Regions from separate parts of the Homo sapiens genome. Here region 2 is linked to region 1. A link means that fine-mapping ties the variant in region 1 to the expression of a gene that starts in the linked region. Tissue or cell type: whole blood. Region 1 holds a variant in brackets; the other region holds the start of a gene. All regions are shown on one strand. Distances are from middle to middle.

Evidence for each region. PIP is the estimated chance that this variant, and not a neighbour inherited with it, causes the effect.
Region 2: FAM32A starts here. The variant in region 1 is fine-mapped to the expression of FAM32A in whole blood (TOPMed, PIP above 0.99).

What each region holds. Positions count from the first base shown.
Region 1 is chr19:16,203,177-16,211,353 of GRCh38, forward strand. AP1M1 (adaptor related protein complex 1 subunit mu 1) reads left to right here. Exons shown (of 12, transcript NM_032493.4): 2 at 283-439; 3 at 3,165-3,232; 4 at 4,843-4,973; 5 at 5,854-6,001. Among named protein-coding and RNA genes, the nearest start is that of AP1M1, 9.4 kb to the left of the region's middle. RefSeq lists a silencer at 1,252-1,401. The variant G/A (reference allele first, on the strand shown) is at 4,294.
Region 2 is chr19:16,182,237-16,190,413 of GRCh38, forward strand. FAM32A (family with sequence similarity 32 member A) reads left to right here and starts at 3,174. Exons shown (of 4, transcript NM_014077.4): 1 at 3,174-3,280; 2 at 3,388-3,529. The coding sequence starts at 3,207. RefSeq lists enhancers at 458-957, 2,181-2,816, 2,719-2,768.

The sequences.
Region 1 (8,177 bases):
GGGTGATTCAGTCCTGGACCTTTGCTGCAGAGTTCGCCTCTACCCTCACCCTGCGAAGAACTGCAGTGGCCCCTGTGGGCATTCACACTGGGAGATGCTCTTCTCCAGGAATTCCCTGGGGGATGGAGATCAGAACGGCCTCAAGTCCTGCTCTTTTGCGGATAGTGGCCATGACCGGAGTCCCCAGAGCGAAGCAGGGTGGTGCATCTCACCCCCTGCCCCAAGCCCCCAGATTGTAGAACTGAAAATGCAAGCATCTTTTCTCTTCCTTCCCCACCCCAGGTGCTCATCTGCCGGAACTACCGTGGCGACGTGGACATGTCAGAGGTGGAGCACTTCATGCCCATCCTGATGGAGAAGGAGGAGGAGGGGATGCTGTCGCCCATCCTGGCCCACGGGGGGGTCCGTTTCATGTGGATCAAACACAACAACCTGTATCGTATCCCTTTGCTGGGGGTGCTCCCAGGGGACTCCTGTGTGGGTGTTGGTGTGTGTGCATATCCACACGCCTGCAAGCAGGGCTGGTTTGTGCACAGCGCAAGCATTGGACACAGCCATGCCCTCCTGGAGCTCCCTGCTGCCTGCGGAGACAGGCAGACAATGCACGATGACATGTGTGATGGGTGTGGGGAGAGGAGCAGGTGTGACTTGAACCTCTTCAGCCCAGGGGCCCAGGAAGGGAAATGACACCCTGGAGGAAGCCTGCAGGGAGGCCTGGCTTCTGCCAGCTGGAGGGGTGGGCAGGCACTAGGCGTGGGTGAAGGCTCTGCAGGGAAGAGCCTCATTCCAACAGCTGCACTCGGGGTGGCTGGAGAGGGGGCGTGTAGGGCAGCGAGGCTGGAGTGGTCAGCGGGGTCTGGGGTCTCAAAGAACATCATCTGAAATGTGACAGGAAGTCTCTGGAGGCTTTTAGATGTGTGTCTTCTGGAGGTTTCTGGCTGCTGAGTGGGGCAAGACTGTGGGGACAGGAGAGGACATGGGTAGGTGGGGAGTAGGCTGGGGCCATCGTGCAGGTGGGAGGGGAAGTGGCCTGGACCACGGAGGGGTGGTGGGGTACAGCCCCGCCCAGATCTCAGAGCCCCCCACCCTTCCTGTCCTTGGGCCCATGGGGAGACTTGGCCAAGCCAGTTTCTATCCAGGAGGTCTAACTGGCCACCCCACAGCTTTGGGCAGACCCGCAAGCCCATCTCAGTACCCACACTACTGCGGAAGGGCCTGCTTTGCCACTCACAGCCCGTTTGAGCCCCAGCTCCAGCAGCCATGGGGGATCCCTCACCTTCCCACAGTTCAGTGGGAACAACGACCCCTCACTGCAGGACCATTCGGGTCAGTTGAACTGACTTGTGCATATTGCTCCCAGCAGGCATGGGCTCTGTGCCCTTTCCTGTGTTCTTGGAGACACTTGGGGCCTTGCCAGTACAGTGTGGCCAACGGGCCAGAATATCCGCTGGGAGCCCTTTGGAAATGCAGAATCCCAGGCTCCACCCAGCCCTGCCCCGTCAGAATCTGCATTGTAGGAAGATTTGTTCCTGGTGGCCGGTGTGCACATTCCCATGTGGGCCGTGCTGGCCCAGGGCTCCCTGTGGTGTGCCTCTGTGTAGATTTCACCTGGCTCTGGAAGGCCCTGAGAATAGCTCTGAAGATGATCTTAGGTGGCTTTTTTTTTTTTTTTGAGACAGAGTCTCGCTCTGTCGCCCAGGCTGGAGTGCAGTGGCGCCATCTGGGCTCACTGCAAGCTCCGCCTCCCGGGTTCGCGCTATTCTCCTGCCTCAGCCTCCCGAGTAGCTGGGACTACAGGCGCCCGCCACCACGCCCAGCTAATTTTTTTGTATTTTTTTAGTAGAGACAGGGTTTCACCATGTTAGCCAGGATGGTCTCGATCTCCTGACCTCGTGATCCGCCCGCCTCAGCCTCCCAAAATGCTGGGATTACAGTCGTGAGCCACCGTGCCCGGCCTAGGTGGCTTTTAACCCAGGGAACTGACAGTCCTCTGAAGCCGCCCAGGTATTGGGAGAGGGAGAGGTGGCTGTGGTCTGAGCTCAGCAGGAGCCATCAGATCAGTTTCTGGTTGGGCCCCCACATTTCACACCTGGGCATCTAGGGAAGAGACAGGGAGGGCTCACCCCTCTGGCTTAGTGGACATCGTTTCACCCCCAGCCGGGACAGTGCTCAGCAAGGCCGTGGCTGAGAGGCACCCATGAGAAGGTGAGAGGCCCCCACTGCCCCTGCTTATAAAGCATCTGGGGAGGGCACATTGCCAGGCAGCAGGAGGGAGGCCAGCACTCGTTTGACTGGGCCAGCGTCCCTTTCCTGGGCCCCTGTGCTGTGCTGGGGTGAGGCGGGAAGGGAGAGGATACAGCCCCCACCCTCCCTCCTAGAGCTCACTCCTGGGCAGACGAGCCAGGCAGCACAGATGTGCCATGAACAGGGATGTCCAGGGTGCAGTGCATGGGCCTACAGAGGAAGAACCAGCCTTCTCTGGCGGCCCGGGGACCCATTAGGGAAAAAGGAATAGGAAGCGCCCAGCACACACTGACCCTGGGAGGCAGGGGCTGGCTCCTGTGGCAGAAGGGAACATCTGTGCCAGACATCTCACCTACATTGCCTTGGTGAGTTCATTCACAGGCCTCCATTACACAGGAGAGAAATATCAAGGTTTCTCTAGAAAGGTTTATTTCATGGGCCAAGGCTTGTGTTTCCAAAGCCAGGAAGGGCTGAAGCCAGAATTGGCCCTGGCTGCTTGCCACAGAGTCTGGCCGGGGGACCCTGGACCTCAGCAGGGTCATGATGAGGTCAGCTTTGGAGGAGCAGGGCCAGTGTGTCCTGCTTTCTGCTCCTGGAATGAGCCTCACTCCCTCCCTGCTCAAGGCAGCCCTTCACCCAGCCGCCGGGACAGGTGCCCTGTGCCACCTGCCATCCCTGTGATTCTCCATCTCAGTGAGTGCTCCCTGGGGCCTGGGAGCGCATCTGGCTGGTGACTCCTGTGTCCCAGGTCTAGCTTGGACCAGGAGCTTTGTAGCCCACCATGGGCCAAGTAAACGGCTGGGAGTGGGGATAGGGAAGGCTCTGAGGGTTGTGAGGGTTAGGGGGTCCCTCCATGAACCAGGATCTTCCAGGCAGCAGCCCCAGCCTCTGAATGCTCCTTAACTGTGGCCGCCATGCAGTGGTTGCCACATCCAAGAAGAACGCGTGCGTGTCGCTGGTCTTTTCTTTCCTCTATAAGGTGGTGCAGGTGAGTCTCGCTCGGAGGGGCCGTGGGCTTGGGTGGAGGTTGTCTTGGCTCTGCTTGTGGACCTCCCCATACCTGGCCACCCTACAGAGAGCTGTGGCATCCCCAGGGAGCACTGGGGCTGGAAGCCCAGGAAGTGGGAAAGGGGAGTCCCAACTCCCCACGCCTGTGGAATTCTATAGCTCACGTTGCTCCCCTACCGTGGGGAAGAAAGGAAAGTGAACAGGAAAAGGTAGGGCTCAGAGCAGGGGTGCCCTGACCCTGGAAGGGACAAGCAGGGGTCAGCGAGCTTTGGAAGGATGTGGGGTGACCAGCTGGATGGGGCTGGAATAACCAGCAGAGCTGCAGAGCTGAGCCCACCTCAGAATCTCCCAGGGGGCTCTCAAGGCACAGATGCCTGACGCCCACCTTGGAGAGAGCTGACACGCCAGGCCCAGGCTGCCAGTGAGACACAGATAGCAGCCAGGGTGAAGGCGCCAGGACAGGTGTATGTGTGGTGCAGCTAGGGAGGCCAGCGTGCGTGTGGCAGAGTATGAGGCTGAGGTCAGCTGGGAAGAGGGCGGATTATACAGGAGTGTGGATTTCATTCCACTTCTGATGAAAGGTAGTGGAGGGCTTTAAGCAGGAGACTGACAAGACGTGGTTTGATCTAAAGCAGCCTCTCTGGCTGCTGAGCAGAAGGAGGACTTGAGGCCAGTGAGGAGGCTGCTGCTGGCTTCCCGGAGAGGATGGGCCTGGCCGAGGTGGGCTGTGGGGCTCACGAAAGTGGGGAACAGGACCCAGGAGGCCTGTGCTGGGCCTGGGAAAGCTTTCATCCCTCACTGATGCTGCCTGTGCAGAATGTTGGGGAACAGGGGCAAGCCTGGGCGGTGAGGGCTTGGGGAAGGAGCCGAGGGTCACCTGGGAAGGCCCCACGTGCAGGCCAAGGGCTGCCTTCACTGGACCGGTGATGCTGTCACAGGCAGGGCTGGGCCTGGCTGTGCTGCCTGTGGTTTCCAAGCAGAGGCCGGGTGATCACAGTCCTGAAGCGCGCAGGGGTCAGCAGATCAGAGAATGGGGGATGC[G/A]GGAAGGGGAAGGTCCTCACCCAAGGGTTGGGCTGTGCCTTTCTGTTTTAGTGACGCTCCTTCCTTCAGCATTTGTGCCTGCAAAAGTGCTTCTAACAGCCCCTCTTCTTTGGCGTCCCTTCCTTAACCTTCTGAGCTTTCCATTGAAATGGGGAAGATGCATCAAGCTTTCCACTGAAATGGGGAAGATGGCAGCTCATCAGGTCCTTGCCTGAGTCACTCCAGACTCAGAAAGGGATGACAGTTACAGTCGCTCAGGAGGGGCTGCCTGTCTGCGGGTGTCTGGGCAGGGAAGAGAATGGGAACGCAGAGCTTCTGAAGGCCTCGGGACATCTGCAGTGGCTCCAGCCTGGCCCCACCCCACAGCCAGCCACTGCTGTCCTGCCCCATAACCTGGGTCCAGGGCCCTGTAGCACACCACCGAGCCTGGGAAGTAGGCTGTTGGTAGGACTTAGCGGGCAAATGAATGTGTGCAAGCGTTCATTCATTCCTCATCCGTCCGCTCAATGATCTGCCTCCCATTCCTCCCTCCCTCCCCAACCGCCACAGGTGTTTTCCGAGTACTTCAAGGAGCTGGAGGAGGAGAGCATCCGGGACAACTTTGTTATCATCTACGAGCTGCTGGACGAGCTCATGGACTTCGGCTACCCCCAGACCACCGACAGCAAGATCCTGCAGGAGTGAGTGGGCAGGGGTGGGGCCTGGGGCCAGGCCTGGGCGGTGTCATGACATCGACGTCATCAGGTGTGGAAACAGAAGGGGCAAATTTGTGTTCATGTTGTCCCCCACCTGCCTCCCACCTCCAGCAGTATTCGGGTTTTTACTAAGTTGCTCTTAGTGGTTTTAATTCGTTTCCTCCTCTACGCCCCCACATAACCGTGCTTTTCCTGCTCCTCATCTTTACTCTCCATCCACACAGATGCCTTCAGTACCTTGCTACTAAGGAGTCACCTCCCTTGTTTTTACTGTCATAAAATGAGACTGTGATCGAAATCTCCCCTCTTTGGAATCCTGCCCTTCAGATAAGAAGCAATGTGAATTAAGTGCTTCCTGGGGGCCGGGCCCCAGCACTTCACATTCACTCGATTCACAGCCTCCCCGTATACCGTCTCCCCATTTTACAGGGGACAAGCAAGCAGACTCCCAGAGAAGCCTGTGTTCCTAACCGCTGCACCTCCTGCTCCTTCAGCAGGATGGGGTCACCAGGTTACACTCCGAGGCGTCAGTTCCATCCACGTGCTCAGCAGGGACGGGAAGCAGCTCACACCCACTTCTTGTTTTCCTTCCCAACATGGTCTTCTTGGTCCCCCAAAATGAGCACTTCAGCCTCTATAACTTGAGTGTATTGGCTTTTGGAAATTGTGAAGATTTTTCTGTATGAAGCAGCCCCAGGTGAACCAGAGGCTGCCTTTTCTGGAGCTGCTGAAATCCAAGGGCTATTTTCAAGTCGGTCAGAACCTGCCCTGTACCCCCCACCCAACCCTGCCGAAATGTCAAGGCCAGAAGCTGTGGCGTTGGTGCGGGTACCACCTCCTTCACTCTGAGCGTGTGGCCCCACAGGTACATCACTCAGGAAGGCCACAAGCTGGAAACAGGGGCCCCGCGGCCACCAGCCACCGTCACCAACGCGGTGTCCTGGCGGTCCGAAGGCATCAAGTATCGGAAGAATGAGGTGTTCTTGGACGTCATCGAGTCTGTCAACCTCTTGGTAGGCCTCTTTTCTTTCCTTCTTCTGTAGGGTTTTATCTCTTCCACGATAGAAATAAACACAGCATTTTAAAACTGGCAAAGCCCCGAGAGCCGTTCTGTGTGGTAACAGATAGCAGGATTCAGTTTGGGCCACTCATTGAAATGTGAGTTTGTCTTATCTTTTTTTTTTGAGACGGAATCTCATTCTGTCGCCCAGGCTAGAGTGTGGTGACACGATCTCGGCTCACTGCAACCTCCGCCTCCCAGGTTCAGGCGATTCTCCTGCCTCAGCCTCCCGTGTAGCCGGGATTATAGGCACCCGCCACCACGCTCGGCTAAAGCTTGTTTTCTTTATTAGCATTTATGCTGACTGAGAATCCATACATGCACATTATTTTTAAAAATTAGAAGCAGGGTATGAGGTTAGAAAGTGAAGGGCTCTTATCAGTCACCATGCACAGAAAAAAAAAAAAGAAACTAAAGGGCTCCTATAATCAGAAAGATTAGGATTTATTCACCGTCACCCTCTCGGGCCTCATTCTGTAGACAGACAGAAACAAGTATATTGATTTTTCTATAAACCTGAGATCATAAGATGTGGTTCTCCTGCAGCTTGTTTTTTTGGTGGTGGTTGTTGTTTGGGTTTTGATTTTGCGTTCAGTGTTACTGTTTTGTATATTTTTTTCTTTTGGTTTTTTAATTATGAGGAAAGTTGACGTTTTGAAAATGAATTTTAGCGCTTGTACAGATTTGTGTACCCATCACCACACCCAGGACACAGAACCTCAAAACCTCCTCATGTTGCCCCTTTGTAGCTCCATGCTCCCCTCTTCCCCATTTCCTGGCCACCATTGAACTGTTCTCCATCACTGGAGTCTTCATCGTGTTGTGATTGTCACACGAGTGGCATCATATGTCACCGCAGCTGTCTTTCTGAGATTGTCGTATGAATGGCGTCATACAGTCATGAGCTCTCGAGTCTGGCTGCTTTAACTCATTCTAATTCTTTGCGATTCATCCAAATCCAATTGTTTTGCATATCAAAAGTCTGTTCCCTTTTATATTTATTTATATTTATTTTCTGTTCTGAACCACAGAAGGACATTTGGGTGGTTTTCCAATCTTTGGCAATTGTCAATAGAGTTGCTAGAAACATGTCGTGTCCAGGTTTATGTGTGGACATAAGTTTTCATCTCTCTAGGGTAAATACCCAGGAGTGGGATGGCTGGGTCACACGGTAAGTGTATGTTTACCTTTATAAGAAACTGCCAAACCATTGCTGTTTTGCATTCTCGCCAGCAACAGATGAGGGTTGTGATGACCCCACATCCTTTGTCAGTAGTTTTATTTTTGTCATCCTAATAGGTATGTAGTAGTATGTCAGCACAGTTTTGTGTTTTGTTTTTGTTTTTGTTTTTGAGACACAGTCTCGCTCTTGTCGCCCAGGCTGGAGTGCAATGGCACTATCTCCATTCACTGCAACCTCTGCCTCCCAGGCTTAAGCGATTCTCCTGCCTCAGCCTCCCGAGTAGCTGGGATTACAGGCACCCACCACCAGGCCTGGCTCATTTTTGTATTTTTACTAGAGACGGGGTTTCACCATGTTGGCCAGGCTGGTCTCGAACTCCTGACCTCAGATGATCCACCCGCCTCTGCCTCCCAAAGTGCTGGGATTACAGGTGTGAGCTACCACGCCTGGCCTATTCCATTTTCTTAATGGCTAATAATGTTGAGCATTGCTTTACATGTTTCTTTGTCATCTGTATATCCTCTTTGGAGAAATGTCTCTGTGCATCTTTTTAGCATTTTTAAATTGGGTTATTTTCATATAGTTGAGCCTTGATAGTTCTTTGTGTGTTCCAGATAGAAGTCCTCTGTCAGATAGGTGATTTGCAAGTATTTTCCCCCAGTCTGTAGCTTATCTTTTTATTCTCTTAGCAGTGTTTTTTTTTTTTCGACAGAGTCTCACTTTGTAGCCCAGGCTGTAGTACAAGTGGCATGCTTGGCTCAGTGCAACCTCCACCTCCGGGCTTCAAGTGCTTCTCCAGCCTCAGCCTCCCAAGTAGCTGGGATTACAGACGCATGCCACCATGCCCGGCTAATTTTTGTATTTTTAGTCGAGACAGGGTTTCACTATGTTGGTCAGGGTGGTATCGAACTCCTGACCTCAGGTGATCTGCCTTCCTCGGCCTCCC
Region 2 (8,177 bases), 21 kb before region 1:
TGTAGTTTTTTTTTAATTTGTATTCAAGACTCAACATAATCATTTTCTTTTCCTTTTTTTTTTTTTTTTTTTTTTTGAGATAGGGTCTTGCTCTAGTGCCCAAGCTAGAGTGCATCAATCAAGATCCTAAATCACTGCACCCTCGAACACCTACACCCAGGCTCAAGTGATCCTCCTGCCTTAGCCTCCCGAGGAGCTGAGACCGCAGGTGTGCCCCGCCACATCCGGCTAATTTTTTTCTTTTCTTTTTTTTTTTTTTTTTTTTTTTTGAGACGGAGTCTTGCTCTGTCGCCAGGGCGGAGTGCAGTGGCACGATCTCCGCTCACTGCAACCTCCGCCTCCCGGGTTCAAGTGATTCTCCGCCTCAAGCCTCCTGAGCAGCTGGGATTACAGGCTCGCGCCACCACGCCCGGCTAATTTTTTTTATTTTTAGTAGAGACGGGGTTTCACCATGTTGGCCAAGATGGTCTCCATCTCCTGACCTCGTGAGCCGCCCGCCTCGGCCTCCCAAAGTGCTGGGATTACAGGTGTGAGCCACCGCGCCCGGCAAAAAGATCGCCTTGCTTTTGACACAAAAGTGCTGGCAGCCCCCATCCCCTGGTACCAGAAGCCCCTCTGCACAGTCTTTTCCAGGTGTGGACGGATAATTAGGCAGTGACTTGCTGCCCCCTGCAGGTAAGACTGAGAAAGGCAGCCCCTGTGCCCTCCTTTTTCTTGTGTCCGGTAGATTTGGGGACGTTTGCTTCTCTCTTCTCCACCTCCTTTGCCTTCTCCCCACTACCCCACCCCCCGCCAGCAATTAAAAAAAAAAAGCCACCCTGGCACAATTTGGACAAAATCTATGAGAAATAAAACGTGCAAACGTGCATAACCTTGGACCTAGTAATTCCATTGGTTGCAAAAGTCAGCCAAGATTTGTGGGCACGGATTGTGTTCATTCATTTATCTAGGGCAGTATTAGGGCTGTTTCTAATTTGTTGGCTATTACAAATAAATCTGCAGTGAACATTCATTTACACAATTTTATATGGGTCTATACTTTCATTTCACTTGGGTTAAAACGTAGGAATCTAATTCTTTTGTCATAGTATAAGTGAATGCTTAATCTTTTAAAGAACTGTCAGACTGATTTCTAAACTGTTTATGCCATTTTACATTCACAACAGCAGCACGTTTGAGTTCCAGTTTCAACACATCTTCACAGATACTTGGTAGGCACAGCCTTTTTAAATTTTTCCCATAATAGTTTTTTTTTTTACTAGGTTTTTGATACAGAGGGAAATAGAGAAGAAACCAAAAATTCCGATAGTCCTCTGCTGACATTAAAAAGATATATTCAAGGGCCGGGCACGGTGGCTCACGCCTGTAATCCCAGCACTTTGGGAGGCTGAGGCAGGCGGATCACCTGAGTTCAGGAGTTCGAAACCAGCCTGGACAACATGGCAAAACCCTATCTCTACTAAAAATACAAAAATTAGCGGGGCATGGTGGTGGGCGCCTGTAATCCCAGCTACTCAGGAGGCTGAAGCAGGAGAATCTCTTGAACCTGGGAGGTGGAAGTTGCAGTGAGCCAAAATCGTGCCACTGCATTCCAGCCTGGGCAACAGAGCGAGACTCTGTCTCAAAAAAAAAAAAAAAGATATATGCATGTACACATCGTATGTAAGAAAACCGCACAGTACTGAAAGGATGAAAAGAAAGAAAGAAAGGGCCAGGGGTGGTGGCTCACGCCTGTAATTCTAATGCTTCAGGAGGACTGCTTGAGGACAGGAGTTTGAGACCAACCTGGACAACACAGCAATACCCTATCTCTATTGATTTTTTTTTTTTTTTTTTTTTTTTGAGACGGAGTCTTTGTCTGTTGACCAGGCTGGAGTGCAGTGGTGCGATTTTGGCTCACTGCAACCTCCGACTCCCGGGTTCAAGCGCTTCTCCTGCCTCAGCCTACCAAGTAGCTGAGACTACAAGCGCAGGCTACTATGCCCAGCTAATTTTTGCTTTTTGTGTTTTGTTTTGTTTTGTTTTAGTAGATACAGGGTTTCGCCATGTTGGCCACGCTGGTTTCCAACACCTGACCTCACGTGAACCGCCTACCTTGGTCTCCCAAAGTGCTGATTTAAATATATATGTACTTTTTTTTTGAGATGGAGTCTCTCTCTGTCGCCCAGGCTGGAGTGCAGTGGTGTGATTTCAGCTCACTGCAACCTCCGCCTCCCGGGTTCAAGCGATTCTCCTGCCTCAGCCTCCCGAGTAGCTGAGACTACAGGCGCCCGCCACCACGCCCAGGTAATTTTTTGTATTTTTAGTAGAGACGGGGTTTCACCGTGTTAGCCAGAATGGTCTCCATCTCCTGACCTCGTGATCCGCCCACCTCGTTTTCCCAAAGTGCTGGGATTACAGGCGTGAGCCACCGCGCCCGGCATAAAATAGATTTTTAATTGTTTTAACATACCACCAACCTTGTCACATGATATTGTCATTTACCTAAAGCTGAAAAATTAATGAATACTGATTAGGTTTACAAAATTAGGTTCAGCTATCCAGTGAACGCTCAAAATATGGCAATAAAAGAGAACGGGGGTGGTGGGGCGTGGCTCAGGCCTGTGATCCCTGCGCTTTGGAAGGCCGAAGCAGGAGGATCACTTGAACCCACGAGTTCGAGACCAGCCTGGACAACACAGCGAGACCCCATCTCGACAAAAAAATTTAAATGAAAATATTAGCCGCGCTCAGTGGCGCCCGTCTGCAGTCTGCTACTGGGGAGGCTGAGGCGGGAGGATCTCTTGAGCCCAAGGGTTCAAGGCTGCAGTGAGCCACGATCGCGCCACTCCACTCCAGCCTAGGTGACAGACCAAGATCGTGTCTCTAAAAAAGAAAAAAAAATCAAGGAGAGAGAACAGGTCACCCAAAAGTGCGCAAAACGCTCAAAAAGGGGTTGGGTTTCCAGCACCCTGTGTGAAGAATGGGAGACCGGAAGTGGGCGCCAAATTCGGAAGTGTGGCAGCAGATAGGAATCGAAGGGCACTCATTCGCTTGGCTCTCTGTCCCGCCCACTACCCGGAAGTGTGGCCCGGGTCCAGAACCAAGAGCGCATGCTCACCTTGTAGCTCAGCCAATCAAAGAGAAGCGAGGCGGCCATTCGGGCGGAAATAGTGTTTGCAAACAGGAAGTGTGGCACTCCAGCTACCGAAGCACTGGAGAGTGTCATGGAGGCCTACGAGCAGGTCCAAAAGGGACCCCTGAAGCTGAAAGGCGTCGCAGAGCTGGGAGTGACCAAGCGGTGAGGCCCGAGGGCCCGCGGGATTCCGTCTTCATCCCCCTTAGACCTTTTCTCGGGACCCCTGGCCCTGATCCTCCGACCCGCCGCCTCCTCATGTCTTTTTCCAGGAAGAAGAAAAAGAAGGACAAAGACAAAGCGAAACTCCTGGAAGCAATGGGAACGAGCAAAAAGAACGAGGAGGAGAAGCGGCGCGGCCTGGACAAGCGGACCCCGGCCCAGGCGGCCTTCGAGAAAATGCAGGAGAAGCGGGTGAGCAGAAGCAGAAGGCGGCGGGGAGGCGGGAACACCCGGCGCCGGGAGACTGGAAATTGGGGTCAGGGCTGGGACGCTCCGAGGGCAGGGGAGCGGTCAGAGGAGACCTTAATTACGGGGAGAGGATGCTGTACGTGAGTGAGAGAAGAGTCGCCCTCTGCCGGGGGAGCTCCAAGGATGAGAAGACCCCGCTGGCCCGAGTGGGCAGCAGAGGGGAGAGCTAGAACTGGCGTTGAAAGGAGGCCAGAGCTGGAGACCCGGGTTTGGATTCCAGTGCTGTGGCTTATTTGCCCTGCGACACTAGGCCAGTGACTTTCTTATTTCCGTGCCTCAAGTTTCCTCTTCTGTACGAGTCAGGGTAGTAACTTATTCTAAGAGGGTTGGGAACTTGAGAGGAAGTCATGAAAGTAAAAAGCAGTGCATACATGTTCAGTGGATGCCAGCTCTTGATATTAAATGGCCATGCTCGCCGCTCGAAGTCACCACAAAGTTTGTTTCCAAGACAACTTTGTTTGGCAGATTCAAACATGCTGTATTTTTTAAAAAATTAGTTATTTTTGGCGGGGTCAGAGCACTGCAGCCTCTGCCTCCGGGGTTCAAGCAATTCTCCTGCCTCAGCCTCCCGAGTAGCTGGGATTGCAGGCGCCCGCCACCACACCTGGCTAATTTTGGTATTTTTCGTAGAGATGCGGTTTCACCATGTTGGCCAGGCTGATCTCGAACTTCTGATCTCAAGTGATCCGCCCGCCTCAGCTTCCCAAAGTGCTGGGATTACAGGCGTGAGCCACCGCACCCAGTCTCAGCTGTTGATATTGAATGGCCATGCCCATGACGACTTTGTTTGTATTGTATTATAAGGCTCCGATAAATTATTTTTTCTTAACACCATAAATGTGTGCAGTGGAGAACAGAAGAGTTCACAGTAAGACAGAAACTGGGTCCATTATGCTGGGGAGAGGGAATAATCAGTGTAGGTCAGTGATTCTCACCTGGGGGTAGTCTCCACCCCCCTAAACTCCCACCCCGAAGCACATGTGGCAATGTCTGGAAACATTTTTGGTTCTCAACTGGGTTGGGGTGGGGACTACTGGCAACTAGTGGCTAGAGGCCAGGGATGACACCACACACCCTGCGATACACAGGACAGCCTGCCGCAGCAAAGAGTGATCCGGCTCCAAATGTCAGTAGCACTGAGGCTGAGAAACCCTAACCCTGGTCTAGGTGATTCTGTACGGTGACACTGGGGAAAATGGACCTTGGGGACAATTAACTCCTTACTCCCAGATCTAATTCAGGCATACAGAAAACACATGGATGCACTACCTCTGGCATGACAGACCTGAGTTTGACTCTGCCTCTACCACAAATTAGTGGTGTGACCCTGGGCAAGCCGGCTACCTATTACTTAAAGTAGCACTAAAGTCTGCCTCACAGGGTTGTGGTAAGGATTTAACAAGTCAGGCGGGCGGATCACGAAGTCAGGAGTTCAAGACCAGCCTGGCCAACATGGTGAAACCCTGTCTCTACTAAAAATACAAAAATTAGCCGGGCATGGTGGCACACACCTGTAATCCCAGCTACTTGGGAGGCTGAGGCAGGAGGATTGCTTGAACCAGTACCCGGGAGGCAGAGGTTGCAGCGAGCCGAGATCACGTCACTGCACTCCAGGCTGGCAACAGAGTGAGACTCCGTCTCAGTGAGACTCAGTCTGGCTCTGTCACCGAGGCTGGAATGCAGTGGCTCGATCTCGGCTCACTGCAACCTCCGCCTCCGGGGTTCAAGCGATTCTCCTGCCTCAGCCTCCTGAGTAGCTGGGATTACAGGCGCCTGCCACGACGCCCATCTAATTTTTTTGTATTTTTAGTAGAGATGGAGTTCCACCACGTTAGCCAGGCTGTTCTTGAACCCCTGACCTCAGGTGATCCGCCTGCTTCAGCCTCCCAAATTGCTGGGATTACAGGCGTGAGCCACCACGCCCGGCCTTTTTTTAATTTTTTGAAAAAGCCTCGCTCTGTTGTCCAGGCTGGAGTGCATTGGTATGATCTCAGCTCACTGCAACCTCTGCCTCCTGGGTTCAAGCGATTCTCCTGCCTTAGCCTCCTGAGTAGCTGGGACTACAGGCGCCCACCACCATGCCCAGCTAATTTTTGTATTTTTAGTAGAGACGGGGTTTCACCATGTTGGCCAGGCTGGTCTCGCTCTCCTGACCTCAAGTGATTCACCCGCCTCAGCCTCCCAAAGTGCTGGGATTACAGGCGTGAACCACCATGCCTGGCCAAGTAAATGCATTTCTTTCCCTTCTAACCCTGAGGTTGTAGTCAGAGGCAGGGCTGAGATTTTATTGCTGGAAGCCAGAATGAGACTTATGCGAGACTTAGGCAGCTATTAAGAGACTAATAATGGGAGCTCAGAGTAGAGCAGTCGTGATGGAGCCAGTGGAAGGTAACAGGTTTGGAATAGGTTTTCAAGGATGAATTCAGGGTTAGCTGTTGGGTTGGATGTAAGCTGGGAAAGAAAGAAGAGTCAAGGATGACCAAGACTTTGGGCTGGGCAGTTTGATGAATGAAGGTGCTGTTTACTGGGGTGGGAAGGATTGCAGGTAAAGCAGGTTTTCTGGAGTGGGAGTTGAGGGAGGGGGAACCAAAGCTATAGTTTTAAAGAAGGTAAATGCAGTGCCCCAGTAGAAATCCAAGTGGAGTCAGCCAGGCACAGTGGCTCATGCCTGTAATCCCAACATTTTGGGAGGCCGATGTGGGAAGATCAGTTGAGCCCAGGAGTTCAGGACTAGCCTGGGCAACATAGCGATACCCTGTCTCTTCAAAAACTAAAATAGTAGCTGGGTGTCACGCCTGTGGGCAGAGCCCAGCCAGGTGCCTGGCATTGTGTGGCAGCTGGACAAGTCAGTGTGGCTTCTCACAGGGAGACACAGGCTTTGGCTGGGCTCACAGCAGCAGGAAGAGGGACAGAGATGGGCAGGGCACTCGCCTTAGAGGGAGAATCAGCCAGGTGAGGGCTGACTGGACACAGGAGGTGAGGGAATGAAGGAGAAGGGGGGGACAGAGAGGAGCAGCCAGGTGGCCCCTACCAATAATATCTCATGATGCTCTGGGTTGACTGGGCTTAGCAGGGTCTGACCTCACTTGGAGTCTGGTGTGGTCAGATGGCAGCTGGGCCTGGAGTCTCTGAAGGTGCAGCTGGGCTGCAGCATCTAAGATGGCTTTGTCGCCATATAGCTGGTGCCTCAGTGCTTCTTTTTTTTTTTTTTTTTTTTTTTGAGACAGTCTCGTTCTGTTGCCCAGGCTGGAGTGCAATGGCAAGATCTCAGCTCACTGTAACCTCCACCTCCCGGGTTCAAGCTATTCTCCTGCCTCAGCCTCCCAAGTAGCCGGGACTACAGGCGCATGCCACCACACCTGGCTAATTTTTGTATTTTTAGTAGAGACGGGGTTTCACCATGTTGGCCAGGCTGGTCTCAAACTCCTGGCCTCAAGTGATCCTCCCACCTTGGCCTCCCAAAGTGCTGAGATTACAGACATGAGCCGCCATGCCCCACCTCTCAGTGCTTCTTTCGTGGCCTCTTCCTTCATGTCATCTCATCTTCCAGGTCCTTTCTTTCCAGCAGGGCCATCAGACTTCCTGCACAGCAACTGGCTTCCAAGGGCACAAAGCTAATGCTGCCAGGTCTTATGCATGGACCCAGAACTGGTACTGTGTTCCTTCGAGTTAACTGAGTCCACGGCCAGGTCAGAGTCAGTGTGGCATGGGGACTGCACAAGGGATGAATCATAGGCAGCACAGTTATAGGGGCCACCAAAGAGTGGGCCACAGTCACCCAGCCAGGAAGTGTGGAGCCAGGTGTGGCCTCAGATCTGTCTGGCTTTATATCCCACACTCCAACTCTTTTTTTTTTTTTTTTTTTTTTTTTTGACAGGGTCTCTCTCTCTGTCACCCAGGCTGGAGTGCATTGGTGTGATCATAGCTCACTGCAGCCTCAACCTCCTGGGTCAAGCAGTCCTCTCACCCCAGCCTCTTGAGTAGCTGGGACCACAGGTGTGCACCACCAAAATCAGCTGATTTTCTTGTAGAGTTGGGGTCTCCTTATGTTGCCCAGGCTAGTCTTGAACTCCTGGGCTCAAGCTATCCTCCTGCCTTAGCCTCCCAAAGTGCTGGGATTACAGGCATGAGCCACCGCGCCCAGCCCACACTCCCAGCTGCTACCAGATACTGACCTTTCCAGGTGTCATTGAGTGTTTGAAGTGAGGATCAGAGCAGGTCATGGTGCAGGAGGCATATTTCAGAATAACCCTGGGGATGGTGATCCTGGTCTTGTAGCCCTAACATCAGGATGGGAAGTGTCACTTGAGCACCTGCTCTATGTCAGACCCTTTACCTCTCTCTTTCTCATCATTCCTGAAACCCGCTCTGGGACTTTGTTTTCCTCCAAACTGGGAGTGCTAACAGCCTCCTCAGGATGCAGGAAGCATGCCGACAGCTCCCAGCAGAGTCTGCTCATGGGTACGCGCTCAGGCATTGCTGGTTCATTTCCTGCCACTCACGAAGCTGGCAAGTGACCTGGGTTCCCTGTTGGACCAGCCTGGGTGGAGTTGAGGGAGGGGGACAAGGCACAGAGCCTGAAACCTCCAGC